3 linked regions of the Homo sapiens genome follow. The protein of the gene in region 3 interacts with the protein of the main gene of each other region in a pairwise test. Each region holds a gene or a part of one and is shown on either strand. Other genes may lie near its edges.

Region 1 (6,659 bases), on a different chromosome or scaffold from region 3:
GAGTCATTCACACAGAGCTGGCTGTGCCTGAGACCGGAGTTTTATTATTACTCAGATCAGTCTCCCTGAGCATTTGGGGAGCAGAGTTTTTAAGGGCAACTTGGTGGGTGGGGAGAAGCCAGTGATCCAGGAGTGCTGATTGGTCAGGGATGAAATCACAAGGAGTCGAAGCCATCTTCTTGCACTGAGTCAGTTCCTGGGTGGGGGCCACAAGATCAGATGAGCCAGTTTATTGATCTGGGTGGTGCTACCTGATCCATCAAGTGCAGGGAGGGTCAGAATCTTGTAAATGACCTCTGGCTACATGACTCCTAAACTGTAATTTCTAATCTTGTGGCTAATGTTAGTCTAGTCCCCAGGCAAGAAGGTGGTCTGCTTTGGGAAAGGGTTGTTACTGTCTTTGTTTAAACTATAAACTACCAACTAAATTTCTCCCAAAGTTAGTTCAGCCAACACCCAGGAATGAACAAGGACAGCTTGGAGATTAGAAGCAAGGTGGAGTGGGCTAAGTTAGATCTCTCACTGTCTCAGTCATAACTTTGCAAAGGCGGTTTCAAGCCCAGCTGCCAACCAGAGGAACTCACTCAACACGTGAGCAGCAGGCAGAAGCAAGAGCCTTCCCCTGAGAAATAGGAAGGAAATCCTAGCCTCGCCCCCGCAACCACTGACTGAACGGGACCCCTCTTGGCCAAGGGGGTGTCGACAAAAAGTGTCAAACTCTGTAAAATATTTTAAAAGATTCTGAGCCGAACATGACTGACAAATGGCCCGTGACACAGCCCTCAGGAGGTCCTGAGAGCAGGTGCCCAAGAGGTTTGGGGTGCAGCTTGGTTTTATATATTTTAGGGAGACATGAGACTTTAATCAAATACATTTAAGAAATACTAAGGCCTAAACTCTGTTGTTGTTTTTTTTAATCTTGCTCAAATTCCTATCTAAGGGGTCTGCGCATGCCCTACAAATCATAAACTCTCAACAGACAGGTTTTGTTTAGCCCTAAATATTGTGACTTACTTTCCAACCCGACTCTGGCATAACATTATGAGACAAGGAAGAAAATCAAAATACTTTACCCCAAAACATGTTTCTTTGCTGTATTTTGAAATGGCCCTGCAGAGCGTCCTTTGTGGGGGAAAATTTGGATCTGCAAAGAATCTCTATTAACATAGCTAGATCTTTTTCTTCCAGACCCTCCCAGTCCTAAAGAGATTAACTAAGGTCTGAATAGGAAACATTTGTCATCTATTGTCTCTAAGGGCAGCCACTATCAGACTTCAAAAGAACTTTGGTCTCCACAATCTTTATCTTAACTTGAACTTTCCCTTCCTATCCATCCCAGGTCTTTAGACAAACTCAACCAACCGTGAACCAGAAAATGTTTAAATTTACCTATAGCCTGGAACCCCCTCACCCCCCATCCCCCACCACCCGCTTTGAGTTGTCCCGCCTTTCTGGACCAAACCAATGTAATTTTGAAATGTATTTGATTGATGTCTCCTGCCTCCCTAAAATGTGTAAAACCAAGCTGTACCATGACCACCTTGGGCCCATGTTCTCAGGACCTCCTGAGGGTTGTGTCTCAGGCCATGGTCACTCATATTGGGCCCAGAATAAATCTCTCTTCAAATATTTTACAGAGTTTGACTCTTTTTGTCGACATTACATTGGTTTGGTCCAGAAAAGTGGGACAACTTGAAGGGTGGGGAGTGCTTCCAGGCTATAGGTAGATGTAAAAATTTTCCGGTTGACAGTTGGTTGAGCTTGTCTAAAGACCTGGGATCAACAGAAAGGAATGTCTGGGTTAGGATAAAGGATCATGGAGACCCAGGTTGTTATTTGCAGAGGAAGCCTTTAGGTAGCAGGCTTCAGAGAGAAGAGGTTGTGAGACGTTTGTTATCGGACTTAAAGTCTGTGTGGATGTTAATGCCAGAGAGGTAGAATGAGGCATGTCTGACCCCCACTGCCCATCATAGTGTCTCAGGTTAAATTTTAAAACAGCCCTGGCTGAGGAGGAAGTCCATTCAGATGGTCGGGGAGGAGGTCTTAGAATGTTATGTTTGGTTAACCGGGAAACCTTGGAAGCTGAGTTCCTGGCTACGGGGGGATGGGAAGCTGGACTTGCGCCCTTCTCCTACTCCCTGGCCAGCCATGACCCAGCTCCCTCCCCTCAGGGAAAACAGAAACCAATTCTGTGGAGACTGCACTGAGGAGATCAGTGTACCCCTGACATTGCCCCCTCCTTCTTGATAGGAGATCCACCACGGAGAGGCCCTGGCCATTCTACGGAAGAGGCGCAAGGAAGTCTTCTGAGTCCGCTGCTTCACCTTTTGACATCAGAGGGCCAAAAGCTCCACCCTCAGATCAGGCTAACACCTCTGGTTTTTGCACATAGAGAGGGGGTGAAGCTGGATTGCGCATATGCCTGGTTTTGGGTCTGCAGTTGGTTCCTGCTGGTGGGTTCGTGGTCTCGCTGACTTCAAGAATGCACCCATGGACTTTCACGGACCTTCGCAGTGAGTGTTACAGCTCTTAAAGATGGCACAGACCCAAAGAGTCAGTGGCAGCAAGGTTTATTGTTTATTCGCGAAAGGACAAAGCTTCCACAGCGTGGAAGTAGACCCGAGTGGGTTGCCGCTGCTGGCTGTGTGGCCAGCTTTTATTCCCCTATTGGCCCCGCCCATGTTCCGTTTCTGTCCTATCAGAGTGCCTTTTTTTCAATCCTCCCTGCGATTGGCTACTTTCAGAATCCTGTGCAGATTGGTGTGTTTTACAATCCTCTTGCAAGACAGGAAAGTTCCTGATTGGTGCATTTTACAATCCTCTTGTAAGACAGAAAAGTTCCCCAAGTCCCCACGGGACCCAAGAAGTCCAGCTGGCCTCATGTCTCAGTTTCTCCTCTTATCAATATTCATGTCCCTCCCACAGCTTATTGAATATGCATATTCAGCCACCCCCACTCAGTGTAGATCTCTGCTTTATTCTTCCCTCCCTCCAAGTGTCTGTTTCCAGCTTCCTACCAGAGGCTGCGCCTCCCAACCAGTCAGAACAGCCACACTCAGCCCGCAGCACTTTATGAGAAGTAAAGCGCTCCTTTCCAAATTGACGACCTCGTCCTTCTTCAGTTAACACCTCCCTCTCTCAATGACGATGATGGAGCATGTCCAGGTGTTGGTGACACAGCTACATGGCTGCGTGTGGGATAAAGTCGCTGCCCCTTCAGAACTCACACCCCCCTGGAGTGGGACACACACCTCTAAGAACAAACAAGGATGAGAGCAGAGCCAGCTTGGCATCGTGGGAATCAATAAATGAAACAGAAAGTGCAAGGTGGTGGGGGTAGCTATCTCGGGACGGGGTGTCAGAGGTGGATCTGAGTTGGGCAGACAGGAGGGACGCAGTCCAGGGCGGTCCTGGGTGAGTCTGTTCCATGTAAGGAACTGCCAGCACACAGGTCGTAAGGAGGAGTGCGGTGTGGCCCCGGCACCAATCCAGGGCTGGATGAAGAATGATTGAGGCAGTCTGAAGATGACACCAAGTCATTCTCCTCCCACGGAGAGGTGGACTTTCTCTTCTCTCTGCAATCTGGGCTGGCCTCAGTGACTTGAGGAGGGAGAAATACTCTAGGATTCCTAGGCTGGGTCATAAGGCACCTTCTAGCCTCTGCTCGAGTGACCTCCTAGGAAGTACAGCTGCCCTGAGCCCACCATGCTGTGAGGAAGCCCAAGCCAGCCGTGGGAAGAGGCCGTGAGGTGGGGGAGGGGAGGGAGATCTGTCCGGCCTCACCTGTTGTAGCCATCCCATAGGTGTGTGAACACAGCATCTTGGACAAGCCAGCCCCAGCTGACATAATTTACAGAAAAACCAAGGAACCCTGCAGACAGCCGGAACTGAGGTCCCAAAATACAGCCCAGCCAAGCCATGCTGCCATCGTTAGCCATTGGTACCTTCCCAATTGAGACCCCACAAATCATGCGGCCTGTGCCACCATCCAGTGCCGGATCTGAACTACTGATCCACTGAGCTTTGGGCTGATTGGTTCTGCAACGATGGGTGGCCAAGGCCACGGTCAAATCCAGCTGGAGAGGTGGATGGGGCCAGTGTCAGGGGTTTGGATTTCACCCCAAGTCAGCTGAGGCACACTGGAATGTCGTAAGCCTGCACATCCACTCATCACACATTTTAACCGCATCTGAGTGTGGACCGTACCGATGGGTTCCTGCACCTGCAGCCTCCACACCATTGCTGGTGCCCTGCCTCCTAGCTGGAGTATCCTTCCTGTCTCTTGGCTGCTCTTTGTACCCATCATGGTCCCCCTACCACCCTCCAAGTTCTGCTCCAAGCTTTGTTTTCCTCCAAGAGAAGAACCTGTCCAGACAATAGTTTCAAAGCAGCGGGAAGCTCTGCTCACGTGTCCCCAAGGACCATGCTGTGTGAAATTCCCTTCTGTAATCACAGAGCCCATTGCCCTGGCCTATTCCTGGTCCAGGAATAGGGAGGAGGTAGACAGAGGATGCCTCCTTCCCCACTGCTGAGAACCCTGCCATCCTCAGCCACAGTTGCCACAGAGAAGATACCACATCCCTGGGGGAATCAGCAGGAATCAGGTAGAGAGTGGCACTGCTCTGGGGAGGGAGGGCGTCTCACAGCATCAAACGTCAAAAACCCACAACATTGACCCAGTCCTGCCAAGACGGAACCCTGCATGAGCATGGGGGATGGGGAGTTGGGGTGTTGCAAAAGACGCAATACATGAATGATCTCAGGTAATTCTCAGGCAACCCCCGGAGGCTGGTGTTGCTAGCACCCCTCTGCAGGAGAAGAAGCTGGGGCTCGGGAGCTGACTGGATCTGCTCAAAGGCCCAGGAAGAATAAGAGTTAGGAACTGGGACAGACCTTGAGGAAGCTGCACTTCCTCCTGAGGTGAGCCAGCGTTGGAGCTGTTTTTCCTTTCAGTATGAATTCCACAAGGAAATCATCTCAGGAGGAAGGGCTCATACTTGGATCCAGAAAATATCAACATAGCCAAAGAAAAACAATCAAGACATACCTCCAGGAGCTGTGTAACAGCAACCGGAAAGAGAAACAATGGTGTGTTCCTATGTGGGATATAAAGAGCCGGGGCTCAGGGGGCTCCACACCTGCACCTCCTTCTCACCTGCTCCTCTACCTGCTCCACCCTCAATCCACCAGAACCATGGGCTGCTGTGGCTGCTCCGGAGGCTGTGGCTCCAGCTGTGGAGGCTGTGACTCCAGCTGTGGGAGCTGTGGCTCTGGCTGCAGGGGCTGTGGCCCCAGCTGCTGTGCACCCGTCTACTGCTGCAAGCCCGTGTGCTGCTGTGTTCCAGCCTGTTCCTGCTCTAGCTGTGGCAAGCGGGGCTGTGGCTCCTGTGGGGGCTCCAAGGGAGGCTGTGGTTCTTGTGGCTGCTCCCAGTGCAGTTGCTGCAAGCCCTGCTGTTGCTCTTCAGGCTGTGGGTCATCCTGCTGCCAGTGCAGCTGCTGCAAGCCCTACTGCTCCCAGTGCAGCTGCTGTAAGCCCTGTTGCTCCTCCTCGGGTCGTGGGTCATCCTGCTGCCAATCCAGCTGCTGCAAGCCCTGCTGCTCATCCTCAGGCTGTGGGTCATCCTGCTGCCAGTCCAGCTGCTGCAAGCCCTGCTGCTCCCAGTCCAGATGCTGTGTCCCTGTGTGCTACCAGTGCAAGATCTGAGGCTCTAGTGGGAAACCTCAGGTAGCTCCTGAAGATCTGTGCTTTCCAACAAGTGACTACCCTTGAAGCACATCCCCTTCTGGATCTGAAAAGAGCCCTTGGCTCAGGGCGTCTTTTTCCAGCCCCTGAGGAAATGGAATGAACCACTCCCTGCCCATTCCCTATAAGAATATCCCAAGACCCAGGCAATTTTGCCCCTCTTTCCCACATGCCCCCATATGTCTGAGCCAAACTGCACTGGGGGCTGCCCTCATGCCAAGCAAGAGCCTGGAATTCCCCTTCTTGATAATTCCATGGGAGACAGCAAACCCTTCTTTCCTTTGCCTGCCAGGAGCTTCACGACATTTGCAGATGGATGTCCTGCAACCCAAATGATCACATGTATCTATGGAAATCCAAAATGCATCTGGGTGCAGCACTAAATAAATTCTCCATCCCTCAGCCTTGGTCTCACTGACTCTTTTCTTCCAGCCTCTGTCTCATTGGCAAACTGGCCACATGTCCTTCCCCTCCTCCCTGATAGCTTATTGCTCCCACTGCTGTAACAGTGTGCCAGGCCCAGCTCCCATTCCAGAAACAGTTGTTGAACTGATTAATGAAGGAACCACTAGCAGTATGTATGAATGAATGAAGACGAGGAATGAATGAGTGAATGAGTGAGTATCTCTCATTAGTACACAGGGAGTCCCAGCTGTATCTCAGTGGGATTCAGTCTGTCTTGGTTGGAATTTGGACTCCTACTTCTTCCCCATGGGAGGATATGTTTGGGAGAGAAGGAGAACTTTGCCCTCAGTGCCTAGGAAGGGATGTAATGGGTGCTCTCTGGGTCCAGCCAGTCCCCAGTTTGTGGGTCAAGCCAGGAGATGGGGAAGCGAGACTAGAATGAGCTGTGTCCCTGAGATGCTCTGTAGGACAACACTGGAAACTGTGCTGCTTCAAGGATCCAAGACGGTGT
Region 2 (7,024 bases), on a different chromosome or scaffold from region 3:
CTCTGAATTAACCCATAGTGGGCCTTTACCCAGTTACTAGCACCTAGAGGAGCCCTGCTTTTGCAGGATGTCTTGACACAGTATTTATCATGTCCTCTTTCTGTTACACCTGTGGTGCCAGAGAGGCAGGAGGTTAAGCAGGGCGCTCGCTCAGCTTTCCAGCAGAAAGAGATGCTCCCCAGGGTCCGGGGGCAGGACTCTGGCTCGGGAGACCCTGACTGTGGTCTAGCCGTTGCCTCCCCCTAGTGATAAGGGGAGACGGCAAGATCCCATGGGCCGTGAAGGAGCAGAGGGGCCGCTAATGGGGTCCTGGGAGGGTTCTTTTGTCCTTGGGTAGAGGGAGCTTCAGGGGCCCGGGTGGGTAGGTGTGGAGAGGACGTGTGAAGCTAGCCAGCCCGACATCGTTCTGAGAGAATCATACCGTGTTTAGATCTTCAGGATAATGGTTCCCTGAATAGCCACTAAGGGATGCTTCAGCCCTGTGCAGTGCTTCCCTCACGTTTCAAAAAGGCCAGTATTTTGGAAAGATAACCTTTTTTCAATATAGTCTGCATATTATCAGAAAGCATGGGTGAGTACCTGCAAGGAGTACCATGTGGACCCCTGCGAGGGGTACCGTGGGGGCCCCTGCGAGGGGTACTGTGTGGACCCCTGTGAGGAGTATCATGGGGGCCCCTGCGAGGGGTACCGTGCGGGCCCCCGCGAGGAGTATCGAGGAGTACCGTGTGGACCCCTGCCTTCTGCAGTGAGATCTCGGGACGTTTGCGGGAGACTCCGCTGCAGCCACCGCGGTGCCGTCAGAGAGGCCTCCTTGGTAGAGGTGGGTGCGCTGTGCCGTGTCCAGGCTGCTCTGACTCCTTGTCCTGCTTCTGGAGGTGCTGGTTGGCCATGGAGTCCAGCTGGAGGCGGCCTGGCCCCTCCCTTCCTCCCTGAGAGGCCTGTTCCTGTCCAGGTCCCCTCACTCTTCACATCGTTGATAATTCCTGCCGAATCGGTGACTTCATTAGGGATGGCAGAGGGTAGTTTCTGAACTTTATCACTTCTTCGGTGTTTATTAACTGGGATTGTTTGTAAAGATTAGCTTTCCCCATCAACCGGTGTCGGCTGGCTGTCCTGAAACACAATTCGTGAAAGAAAGGCAAGTGAGATGCTTTTCCCTCATCTTCCCGTACCTCAAGGAGAGAGTTGCTTTTCTTTGTAGATGTGTGTGGGCTTTCTCTCCCCTGAGTGTTGTGAAGAGCCCGTGGATTTTCCTGCATCCTGTGTGTCTGAGCCAGTGGCACTTACCCGTCTCCGCTGGCTCTGGTGGGCTGCTCCTGGGAGGGCGTCCGTTCCTGCTGACTGCACCTGAGCCAGCGGGGAACGCACTCACCGCCTCCTCACGAGTCCTTTCTCTCTGGGTTCCTGTGAACCTTTGCGCTGGATTTTTTAGGCCGGGTTGTGAGTCTGTACAGGTGTGGAATTGCTGTGCTTGCCTGGAAATCACATCTTTTCACTGTGTGGGGACCCACGGGCCTCTTGGAAGATAAAGGCCTCTTGCCTTTGATTATTTTGTCTGATACTGGCATGGCCACCCCAGCTGTCTTTTAGAGAGTATTCACCTAGTACTTTTTCCTTCTATGATTTTACATTTTTCTGAAAACTTTTGTTTAAGACACGTGCACCATCGATAGCACGTAGCTGGATTTTTAAAAAGTCAAATCTAAGAAGACTAAGTCTTTTGATGGGAATGCGCTAGTTTCATCTTTCTAGTTAAGAGATGCCTAGATGGATACACAGATTTACAGATTTTTTACATGTTTTCTTTGGTGCTTTTATTTGTCCTACATTTTCTTATTTTTTTTCTCTCATTGCCTTTTGAATTTATTAAATGGAGTTTTAAAAAATTCAGTTGTTTTATCTCAAGTACATACACACTGTGCTGGGAAAGTACAGGGGCTCCCCTGGAAATGGTAACATGCACTTATCAGCTTCTGCCATGAGGGAGTCTCTGAGTGAACTCTGGCTCCGGAGGCTGCCCGGCTAAAGAATAAATAAAGAAGAAGTTAATCATTGTCTGTGCCACCTCCGGATCCACGCGGAGACCTCGGCCGCCCCGTCCTGGCGCGGGTGCTGCTGTGCCTTGTGTGGGTGCTACCTCCCCTTGGGGCTCCCGCAGGAATGTGTTACTTCTCTCGAGTCAGCGCTTGTTTAGATTTCCTTCTGTGTTTCTCTTTTCTTATCCCTTCTGGTGTCTCGGGCCTTCCATTTGGGGTCACTTTCCTTTAGCTTCAGGTTCATCTAGAATTTTCCTTGCTGGCAAACTTGATTTTTGCTTGTACATGCCTTTTCTCTGTGTCCTGACAGCTATTTTTGTGTGTGTGGAACTCCAGGTGGGCGGTACTCCAGGTGGACAGTACTCCCGGTGGACGGTCACTTGTCCTCAGTGCCTCGAAGGTGGGACCCCGCCCTCTCCTGGCTCCTGGAGTGGCTGCTGAGCAGCCCGGGAGTGGATGTCCCTTCCTCCGGCTTTCCTTCGTTTTTGGCCCTCTGTTTGCTGCCTTCTGAATACGCTGCTTCTGGCCTGCCTCCCAGTTCACTTGAGGTCTTTTTTTTTTTTTTTTTTTTTACATGGAGGCTCGCTCTGTAGCCCAGGCTGGAGTGCAGTGGCACAATCTCAACTCACTGCAACCTCTTCCTCCCAGGTTCAAGCGATTTTCCTGCCTCAGACTCCCGAGTAGCTGGGATTACAGGCGTCCACCACCACGCCCAGCTAATTTTTGTATTTTTAGTAGAGATGGGGTTTCACCATGTTGGCCAGGCTGTTCTCGAACTCCTGGTCTCAAGTGATCCGCCCACCTCAGCCTCCCAAAGTTTTGGGATTACAGGCGTGAGCCACTGCACCCGGCCCTAACCTCTGTTCATCTGGGCCTCTAACACTGTCCCTTGACCTGCCCGACAGGCCCCTGGTTAGGCCTGCTGTGCAAGTGTTTCCTGTCCCTGAGTCACTGTCTCCAGATCCTGCGGGCCCTGCCCTGGCACCGTGCTGGTGAGGCCTGCCTTGCTGCCCTGTGGGAAGTGCAGCGTGCCCCTGCCACCCGGCCTTGCCCTGTTTCTTTGCACAGCGCCTCCTGCCGTTAGCATACAGCATAACTCATGATGCTTCCCGTTTGTCTTCTTCCACTCACGTGTAAGCATCCCAGGAGCAGGGGTGCCCCAGCACCTCACCATGGAAGCCTCAGGCACACAGTGACACGCAGAGGCTGCCGCAGCGCGCGCCCTGTGCCCGGCGCCCAGGGCCTGCCACGTCACATGCCGTCCCTCTCTGGATCTCTGTCCGCCCTTGGCCTGCTGCTTGACTGGCTTTTGTTTCATCTGAATGAGAAGGGGTTTTCCGCCTCTGCCTTGCTTGACCGTCCCAGCACTTAGGATGCAAGGCTGCCTGCAGTGGAGTTCCTGGCAGAGACCCCATTTAAAGTCGCTTGTTCTGTAGTCAGCTTTTATAATCTATGCTTATTCTCATTCTGTCCTGTACTCTTCCCTTTCACCGCTCTTCAGCTTACACGGGTTCGTTTCAATACTGTCATCTCCCAGCTTCCCTTACACAAATTCTAGTGTTTGCTTTGAGACTTTAGCAGAGCCAGGGAACCTCCCGGCATGTTGGCTTTGAAGCGCCTGTTGTGTTTTGTATAATTAAAGGAAGAGGGGAGGGGGTGATAGGAAGAGGGAAGGAAAGCCCTGTCTGAGGAAGGCCCCGGAAGGGGAGACAAGGCACGGCGAATGAGTGCTCAGCGAGGGCTCCTGGGAGGGGGCTGCTGAGCGGCCGTGGGAGGAGGATGTGGGAACTGGGGACAAAGTCACCACTGCCCGTCCACACTGGCGTGGGAGCTGCCTTGCCAAGAGCAGTTGCATGAAATGCCACTTATTTGCTCAAGGGTTGTTTATTGAACATGCCAGTGCCAGGAGACTGGCGTGGAGCATGAGGCCGAGGCTGGCTGGAGTGGGTTTTGGGGAGTGTCAGGAGGCTGGTGTGGAGCGTGAGGCCGAGGCTGGCTGGAGTGCCAGGGGCTGCAGGGTCAGGTACTGGTCCAGCTTTTGGATGCTGGTGCTGTGAAGGGTGGTGGGTGAGGGAGCCAGCAGCTGAGTGGGCATGGGGAATTGCAGTTTTCCTTCTAGCCTTATTTTGGAAAATGCTAAACTTACAGGGCAATGGCAGTGGCCACCAGTGAGTGTCGGTGAGTCCTTCACCTCCACGGGGCTCCCCTCTTGGCCGTGAGTGTGCAGGCCTGGGGCATGTGCAGGCTGGCACTTCAGTCTCTGAAACCCTGCGCACTGAGGGGTCAGTCAGCTGGGCAGAGGGACCGCCAGGGCCACCCAGGGTCTGTCCTGACTGCCCACGGCCCTGTGTCTCAGCCCTGGTGCGCGTTCCCGCCCTCTTGCACGCCCGGATCTGGATGTGAATCACACAGGTGTGCGGGCATCGGGTGGATGGGCCATTTCTCCTGGGCCAGACTGAGCTCTGACCTGGGTGTGAACCTAGCAGCAGACATCCCCTGTAGGACAGTGGCCTGGAGCAGGCCCCTTGCAGGGCCTTCAAGGCAGGGCCAGCCCCTCAGACACAGCAGGGAGGCTGGTGATGACCTGGGCTCCAGGTTCTCAGCTTCATCTGGACCAACTGTGCTGTTCTATGTGAGTCCTGGGGCCCTGACCGAGTCTGGGGCTCCCTTCCTAGCAGACACTCAGACCTCGCCCAAGAGGCTTTGAGACTGACTTCCGCCCATATCCCTAGATGTTCCTACTACGGGGGATTTATTTCTCTCTGTTTCATTAGCTTCCTCTGTCCCTTTAGCCACGAGCCCAGCCCAGGTCTTCCTGCTGTGGGTCCCAGCTCTGAAAGTCACGTTGAATCATGGCCATGTTAGGAACTGGAGAAACCTAGGGCTCAGGGTACAGAGTTTCACTAGTTGGGCTTCTGTGTTGGGGCCTCCGTGGGCTGGCTTTGTGGCTTCAGGAGTCCTTGACGCTTGTTCTCAATGTGGGGGTGATATTGACCCTGAGAGGGCACAAGGGGTTCTTGGGGGAGGAAACTTCTGGGGTTTGGCGGCCGTGTGTGCCTCCCCAGCACAGCTCCTGGATTTCTTGCTCCTTAGTATTTCATTGTCCCTGGGTTTTCTGGGTGTCCCAGCACATGGATACGGAGTTCTCGGAAGCCCGCGACACATGTGCGATCTCAGACCTGCTGTGAGGTGGGTGGGGAGGGTGGGCAGGCGCCTGCGGATGCCGTTTGTGTGGGATCCTCAGTGCTGGTGTGAGACTCTGGCTTGGAGAATTGAATGAGAATCGTCGACATTTTGTGATTTAATTCCACAGAACGTATTTAGCCCATCGCTAATGATGTCAGTTTGCTGAAAGAATACCAGCCAGCCAGTTAAAAGGTACTTTCTCACATCAAGCAAAAGCTTCAGTTCACTAAGGATATTTTTTATTGTGTTTATATAAGTTGTTTATTTCTACGTGTGATTTGATACATTACAATTTATGTAAATAAATTACACTCAGCGCTGCTCAGCGCATAGTCATGAAGTGCTAGAAGCATTTTAGTTTTTAATTGAACTTCGTTCGACTTAGTTATGCTAACCTGGCGTTAGCGCTGAGACTCGTTGAGCCTTGCTTGCAGTGTTTACATGCCAAGTGCAGGTGCATGCGTGGCACACAGACACAAACAGCACCTCCACAGCCTCGCAGCGTCATGGGGTGGGAACGGTGAGAAGGTTTAAAAAGGCTCCGCAGGGGGCCAGTCATGGAAGTGGCCAGGAAACCCTGGTCTCCTGCCGCCTGCGTGTGGCCAGCCGTGCTTCAGGGGCGACTGTGGTGCGGCTCCTTGGGGTGATGTCTCCTGGCAGGCGTGAGGCCAGGACTGCATGTGTTCAGGACTCCACGTCCTGGGCTGAGCTGGGCTCTTCCGGGGCTCTGTCAAGGCAGAAAGTGTGGCCCAAGGAAGCAGCGGCACTCTCAGTCGGAAACGTATTCCTAACAGGTGTCGGGCAGAAAGTGTGGCCCAAGGAAGCAGCGGCTCTCTCCGTTGGAGACGTGTCACCAACAGGAATATTCACAGTGGGTGTTTAATTTGTGTGCTTAAAAAGAAAAATTAGCTTTGGATTGACTACACACATTGCATGACAAAAAAGAAGAATTAAGACTTTATTTCTGTGCCAAAACTAAAACTTAGACTTGAAGAGAAATTGTTTTAAATAGAAGTGAATGTTGGAGACCTCTTTTCTTTCGTGTGGAAAGGTACGCTGCAGTGGTTTAGAGCTCTGGCGTCAGTGAGGGAGGAATGGTCGTCAGTCACAGGCTTGCGTCGTGATCCTCTGAGAGCGGCACATGGGGGAGGAGAATCAGCAATTCCAAGAAATTTGAAGTTACATTTTAAAACTATATTTAAAACAGACTAATATTTATAAAAGTAGCTTTTATTTTCAGAGAAGATAAAATGCTGTGAGCTCTGTGGGATGAGAGCCCTACCCTGTCCTTTTTATTTTAAAAGTAATTCACGAATGTTTTTAAAAAGTTTCTAAAAATAACTAGCAGGATATAAAAGTATAAATAAATTGAAATAGAATCTTCCCTGCCTGTTTCCCTCGAGTTCCATTCCTGAATGCTCCTCCAGAGTTGGTGTCGACAGAGGCCTCCTTATGGCTCCCTGCAGCAGGTCGTGCCGCACCTCCGCCTCCGCCTCCGTCCCCCGAGTCTCCATGTGTTCGCGGCAGGGACCGCCGGCTCCTGGTGAGGCCGCGTGGCGATGCGCTGGGTGGATGTGCCTGGCTGGTGGACGGGGCGTTTTGACGGCACAGGTGACGCAGCCTCAGGCATCCTGTGCTCACGTGCCCGAGTGAGCATTGACAGGGGACTGGCTCCTGAAGTGGAATTGTTGGCCTTCACACGGGCATTTAGACTTGTTAGTGTTGAACTCAGTATGTGCATCTTGTACATGGAAGCAAAATTCTAGAAAAATATCCATTATGTATCGGGAGTAATCATTTTT
Region 3 (7,232 bases):
CATACAATTAAATAAAAAATAATTGTATAAATATACAATTAAATAAAAATTGTATAAATATGCAATTAAATAAAAAATAATTGTATAAATATACAATTAAATAAATTACATTGAAAACAAAGATAATAAATACTCAAAACTCATCTCCATCTACATTTTACTACTATCTGTGCTCTTAAAGTTACACAAGTCTGCTGTGCCTGCATGGTGGAAATACCATACAATGACTTGCTACTGCACATTTCATGGCTTCAGTGATGTTAGACTGGCATCTGGAAATTGGCCATATTTGGAGTAAACTACAGAGATTGGCAAATGCTATGAATTAAGGCCTTCTCTTCCCTCCTAAAAGCCAGCAGTTAAACACTTATCACCACATCATATCCAAGAGACATCTGGATAAATGAATCTAAGCTCAGGAGACACATCCGGGTTGGAGATACCGCAGTGGGAGGCATAGACTTGATGCGGGCAGCTTCATGGGCTGGCGTCAGGGTCCCCACATCAAGAAGGACCCCATGATTGGTTTAATGCTCTGCTGTTGCTAACATAAAATTCTTAATTTTTGAATAAGAGGCCACATTTTCATTTTACACTGGGCTAATATAGATGATAGGGAATTTTAGGTTGTTTGGGGAGGGGGCTACTTAATTGATTGCCTTCCATTTCCACATAACAAGTATTCTGTCTTACTCACCTATGTGGTAGCACATTTTCACAGGTATTTTCCCCATCCATCCCTCAACCTGTGCATTCTCCACAAGCAGCTCACAAAATTTCCCTTGTCTATTTCCTCCCTGTATTGTTCTCTTTGGCCTTCTTTTGAAATTTGTTAACTTTTTTTTTTTTTAACTTTCATTTTAGGTTCAGGGGTACATGTGCAGATTTGTTATATAGGTAACTCGTGTCACGGAGGTTTGTTGTACAGATTATTTCATCACCCAGGTACTAAGCCTGATACTCAACAGTTATTTTTTCTGCTCCTCTCCCTCCTCCCACGCTCCACCCTCAAGTAGGCCCCAGTATCTGTTGTTCCCTTCTTTGTGTCCGTGAGTTCTCCTCATTTAACTCCTACTTATATGTGAGAACATGCGGGTATTTGGTTTTTTGTTCCTGCGTTTGAAAACTGTTAACTTTCAAAGCATTAATGTATTACATGGCTTTAATAAAAATATTTCTTCAGAACAGAAATCTCGAAGGAAAAAAAAAGTTTCTCTCCAGATTGCAATGTCCCACACATTCATCTTTCACAGTGATATGACTGGTTATGGAGCTTGTGGAATAAGACAGAACTGGGTTTGAACTCTCTCTCTCTCTTTCGTTTTCTAATCCTTAGAATGGGTTTGAATTCCTGTGTGTGTGACCTGAGGTAAATGTCTTTGATTTCTCTACCCTTCAGTTTCCTCATCTGAGGAAAGAATAATATTTACCTCTGAAGGTTATTGTGAATATTAGATAATCTACATAAAGTGCCTTACATAATGCCTGGTCCATGGTTATAGTGTTCAATTAATGGCAGTTCTTTTTATTCGTACATGATGAGTTAGGAACACCCAGTAATTTGGACATGACACATGGTAGAAAAGTCTTAGGAGGAATGAAGGAAACACTGGCAGAGATGAGCTGCAAAATTTCAACTCTTTAAACATTTTCCTGGTGCCACAATATGTATGTCCCAGACTGGACTGGACAAAGCGACTCTTTACTGGGGCTGTTACTATTCTCACAACTCCTCTCCCTGTTATTCCTCAGACAGAGCTAACAATCTACACAAATAGCACAGATGTGGGCTCTTGGACAGCCAGTCAGACATTTAGCCTTCTTGCGGCAGTGAAAAAATCCTTTCCCTGGCGTAAAGCTTGGCACAGGGTAGGCACTCAAAATTTTGTAGGTTTTCCTTTTCACCGCCGTGGCCCCAACTAGCACAGGGCCTTGCACACAGCAGGCGTCCATTTACTGAATGAGCGCATGATGAATGAGCGCATGATCATGTCACCTGTTTCTCCCTCTTCCTCCAAACCCCTGTTCTTCCGCCTCTGCCCCACGCAGCCAGCATATCCCAAGGAGCCAGGCGCAAGCCAGGCCTGGTTCACTGACTCGCTCCCCGCGCGAGGCTGCGGTTGCTATGGAAACAGCGGGAAATAACAACTCCGTTCCCCTTGGGTGAGAGAGGCCCGCAGAGGTAACAGCAGCTGGAGGAACAGCGTGAGCGGCGCGCAGCCGCCGCAGAGTTCACCACTGTGCCACCCGAGCCGCACCGCCCCGCCCCCGCGCGGCCGGCGCCCGAGCTCCCCTCCCCTCTCCAGCACGCGAGTGTCGGTAGGTACTACGGCGGAGGGCACCTCCTGGGCCCGCCTCCCCAACCAGGGCCCCGCTTGCGCGCTGCCTGCTGTCTTCACGTGATGCGCACCCGAGCTTCGCCGCCAGGCGGCGCTGATCATCGGGGAGGGGGTTAGGGGTCCTAGACACGCGAGTCTTCGCTCTGTTTCTCATTCATTCATTCATTCACTTAAATGTTATTTTTCCCTTCCTTCCTTCCCTCCCTCCTTCCGGGATGGGGTCTTGCTGTGCTGCTCAGGTTGGTCTCAAACTCCCGGGCTCAAGTGAGCCTCCTGCCTCAGTTTCCCAAAGTGCTGGGGTTACAGGCATGAGTCACGGTACCCGGATTCTCTCTTTCTCTCTCTGAATATATATAATATATATAAAATATATATATAAAAATATATAATATATATAAAATATATAAAAAATATATATAAAATATATATAATATATAAAATATATATAATATATTATATATAAAATATATATTATATAGTATATATAAATATATATACTATATAGTATATATAAATATATATAATATATAATATATAAAATATATATAATATATAATATATAAAATATATATAATATATAATATACATAAAATATATATAATATATAATATATATAAAAATATAAAATATATAATATATATAAAAAATATAAAATATATAATATATATAAAATATAAAATATATATTATATATAATATATAAAATATATAAAATATATAAAATATATAATATATAAAATATATATAATATATAAAATATATAAAATATATATAAAATATATAAAATATATAAAATATATAATATATATAAAATATATAATATATATAATATATAATATATAAAATATATAATATATAAAAATATATGATATATAATATATATGATATATAAAATATATAATATATATAAAATATAAAATATAAAATATATAATATATAAAATATATAATATATAATATATAATGTATAAAATATATAATATATAATATATAATATATAATATATAAAATATATAATATATAATATATATAATATATAATATATTATATATATAAATATATATAATACATATATATTATATATATTATATATAATATATAAATATATATATAAATATAATATATATATTTATATATAATATATAAAATATATATTTTATATATTATATATAAAAATATATAATATATAAATAAATAAATAAAATATATATAAAATAAAATATATAAAATATATATATAAAAAAAATATATATTTTATTTTCTAAGACAGGGTCTTGCTGTGTCGCCCAGGCTGGAGTGCAGTGGCAAAATCATAGGTTACTGCAGCCTCGACCTCCTGGGCTCAAACAATCCTCCCGCCTCAGCCTCCGAGATAGCTGGGTCCACAGGCGAATACCCTGCCCACCTACTTTTTTTTTTTTTTTTTTTTTTTAATTGTAGAGACCGGGTCAGGCTGGTCTCAAACTCCTTGCCTCAGGGGATCACAGGCGCGTTATAGAGACGGGGGCTTTCCCTGTGTTTCCCAGGCTGGTCTAGAACTCCTGGTCTTAGGCAGCCCTCCCGCCTGGGCCCCTCAAAGTACTGGAATTTGCAGGCGTAAGCCACCGCATCTGGCTTTGCACATTTATCTTCCAGCAAAGAAAAACCTGGGCAACTACATCCAGGAACTTAATTGCTTTAATTTGGGAGCAAGCAGGAGATTGAGGGGTAAAGGTGCAAGAAGAGAGAAAAGAAAAATTAGGCTGTTTGGAAAGGGTAGCACAGATATGATGTAAGAAATTGGGTTTCACCATATTTGTGTGTGTGTGTGTGTGTGCGTCCTCCTCTCTCCTGCCCTCACTAGGCGTGCCTGTTTGAAGGCCCCGCGCGTTTCCGGCTCCTGCTCAGAAGCTGTCCACCTTGATTCTGCCCGTAGCAGGTGAACCTGGTGTGGTGCGCGCACTGCGGGTCCTGATTGGCTGTGCACGCCACGGTGAAAAACTTGAGCGTCTACTCCGAGTCCTGCAAGCTCCTAGTGTCTCCTCTGGGTGGACGCCTAGGCGCACGGCCGTTACTTCTCTTTCACCTGTGGATTCGTCAGTTTCTCGTTCGTTTCAGGAGGCGATCCCGCGCCCTGGGTGCGGTGAGGCCGCTGGGACAGCGGAGGTGCCTCCCGACGCGAAGCAGCGAGCTGAGGCGGCGGCCAGCGGGGAAGATGAGCGGCAGCAGCGCCAGGTCCAGCCACCTGTCTCAGCCCGTCGTGAAGAGCGTGCTTGTGTACCGCAACGGGGACCCCTTCTACGCGGGGCGCCGCGTCGTCATCCATGAGAAGAAGGTGTCCAGCTTCGAAGTCTTCCTGAAGGAGGTGACCGGCGGCGTTCAGGCACCCTTTGGGGCCGTCAGGAACATCTACACCCCGCGGACTGGCCACCGAATCCGGAAGCTAGACCAGATCCAGAGCGGGGGCAATTACGTGGCTGGAGGCCAGGAAGCCTTCAAGAAACTCAAGTGAGTCGGTCTCCCCCACCGCCCACCCATTTAGGTGCCCTATAGTGTGGGGTTGATATGAAGAAATGCAGATCCCTACCCCCCCACACCTCAGTGGTTGAGGGGCTGTGACTTCTCGGTGTGATTGATGCCCCTCAAAACTCTCGTTGCAGTTGGGGGGTAGAGGTTGACACTGTGACTGGAGAAGGAATTTCACTTGGGTCAGCAGTAGGAGTAAACTTAAAATCTGTGTATAAACAACAGGAATCTTAAAGAAAATAAAAAGGTATCCTTGCAAAGGTTAGTGACCAAACTGATACTTTTGCGTTTTCTGTTCAGTTTTTTCTTTCCTTTTCCTTATTTTTTTTCCTTGGAAATCCATCCTTTTAATTTAAATAAACATTCTTAAAAATCACTTCCAAGTGTTGGACACTATATTGTCACCAGAGGAGAAAATTGCTCTGCATTTCCCGTACTGTTTAAATTATTTCAACCTTTCATTCCAAGTAGAATTGACAACACTCACTTTTGTGACCCTGCTCCCACCCCCTGCATGTTTATGCTGTTAGCATAATGCAGGAAGAGTTTACTGGCTGACTGTATTTGTCGACTGTCTGTCTCCAGCAACGTGATTAGACCTTCAAGGGCAGGGGTCCTTATTCCCAGCTCTTGAGCTCACTCATAGTGAGTGTTCAGTGAATTAAGAAACCGTCAGTTCAGGGAACAAAGATGAGCAAGGCATGATTCCTTGTCTTTAGGAGCTTTCAGTCTAACTGGACTACCTGCACACTAACAATTTTAATGCAAGCTACAAAGGGATATGTGCATAGAAAAATAAAGTTATGTGGGAATTGTGAGTTGAGAGTTGGTTGGGGTGGTCATTATAGGACAGGTAGAATTTTACATTCCATTTTTTTTTTACAGCTTTATTGAGATAGATTTCTCATGGCATGAAGTCCAACCATTTCATTGGCTTTCAGTGTATTCAGAGTTGTGCAACCATCACCACCAACTAATTGTAGTTCATTTCCACCCCTCCCGCCAAAACATTTGTACCTCCCAGTTTCCTCTGTCCCCTGTCATCTGGAAACCACTAATCTATTTTCTGAATCTATGGATTTGTCTATTCTGGACATATCATATAAATGGAATCATACGGTATATGGTCTTTATGTCTGGCTTATTTCACTTACTGTAACATTTTCAAGGTTCATCCATGTTGTATCATACATCAATACTTCATTCTTTTTATTGTTGAATAACATTCCATGATTTGGGTATATTACCTTTTATATCCATGCTTATCCATTTATCAGTTTGATGTATATTTGGGTTGTTTCACATTTTAACTATTATGAATAATGCATCTATGAATATTTGTGTACAAGTTTTCATTTCTCTTTGGTGTATACCTAAGAGTGAAATTGCTGGATCACATGGTAACTCTGTATTCCATAGTTTAATAGAACATTTTAATTGAAATTCATCTTGGGCCCCAGGATAGAAAAAAGCCTTGACCATAAATCTAAGCTTATGAATTCATAAGCATTATTGGATTCTTAATAATTAAAATTCAAATAAAGTCTTATAACTACATAGAAATATTTTTCAAAATATCACTAAAATTCTTGAATGTAATCCTTCTTCTCCTATATTTGTTTAAATTGAGTTCTAGGTATTCTATTATACTTTTTGTTACGTCAGACATTCTTTTCATGGAAAGTGAGGGATATATTTGGATTTATTTTTCCCTCCCCTGAAGCTTCTTAAGCATGCTTTGTTAAACTTCGTAAAAAAGGGCTAAATGAAATTGCATGCTTAAAGGAAACTTAAAACCAGGAGACTGAAGACTGAGTTGCTCATCAGCTCTGTGTCCTTGGGCAAGTCGCTTGACTCAGCTAATCAGTTTCTTAATACAGAAAAGGTGCATAATCATTTGTACCACACAGGGCTGTGATAAAAAGTAAATGCTATAGATGTGTGTTTTGTAAACACCAAAGTGTTACATAAATATAAGACACCTCTATGACCAGTTCCTTTTGTTACATACTTTATTTTTTATTAAATATTTCCGTCTAAAGCAATTTCGTGGAAATGAAAGTCTGGTTCAGAATCTCTGAACGGCTGAAAATTGTAGACTCACTTTTATAGTTCATGTTCTTTTGTTTATTTGATCCTACCAACTCACAAGATTAAAAAAAAAAGGTACAGTTCCACACCAAATAAAAAAGTGTACTCAAGTCTCTCTAAGAGATTTGCATGTTATTTTTGCTTTCAGTTCATACACAAAAAACTGAATTTGTTATAACAGTGTCCATGGTTAGGTTTCCATGCTGACAGATGACTATTTTATTTGTGTTAAAGAAGTAGTATCTACGGTTATAATGATAGAAGCCAAGAATACTTGAATGTTGAATATATTTGAAACT

Evidence for each region. Proteins that work in one complex are often made in the same cells at the same time.
Region 1: the proteins of DCDC2 (region 3) and KRTAP5-9 interact in binary tests that used the Homo sapiens proteins (3 or more experiments, as listed by UniProt).
Region 2: the proteins of DCDC2 (region 3) and TOLLIP interact in binary tests that used the Homo sapiens proteins (3 or more experiments, as listed by UniProt).

Annotation. Positions count from the first base shown.
Region 1 is NC_000011.10:71,543,464-71,550,122, forward strand, and holds KRTAP5-9 (keratin-associated protein 5-9), read left to right. Parts: upstream 1-4,956; 5' UTR 4,957-5,194; coding exon 5,195-5,704; 3' UTR 5,705-6,145; downstream 6,146-6,659.
Region 2 is NC_000011.10:1,299,619-1,306,642, reverse strand, and holds part of TOLLIP (toll-interacting protein), read left to right. Parts: intron 1-3,852; exon of another isoform or gene 3,853-4,059; intron 4,060-6,630; exon of another isoform or gene 6,631-6,765; intron 6,766-7,024. UniProt on the Homo sapiens protein: Component of the signaling pathway of IL-1 and Toll-like receptors. Inhibits cell activation by microbial products. Recruits IRAK1 to the IL-1 receptor complex. Inhibits IRAK1 phosphorylation and kinase activity.
Region 3 is NC_000006.12:24,355,050-24,362,281, reverse strand, and holds the start of DCDC2 (doublecortin domain-containing protein 2), read left to right. Parts: upstream 1-4,222; 5' UTR 4,223-4,531; coding exon 4,532-4,824; exon of another isoform or gene 4,825-5,379; intron 5,380-7,232. UniProt on the Homo sapiens protein: Protein that plays a role in the inhibition of canonical Wnt signaling pathway. May be involved in neuronal migration during development of the cerebral neocortex. Involved in the control of ciliogenesis and ciliary length.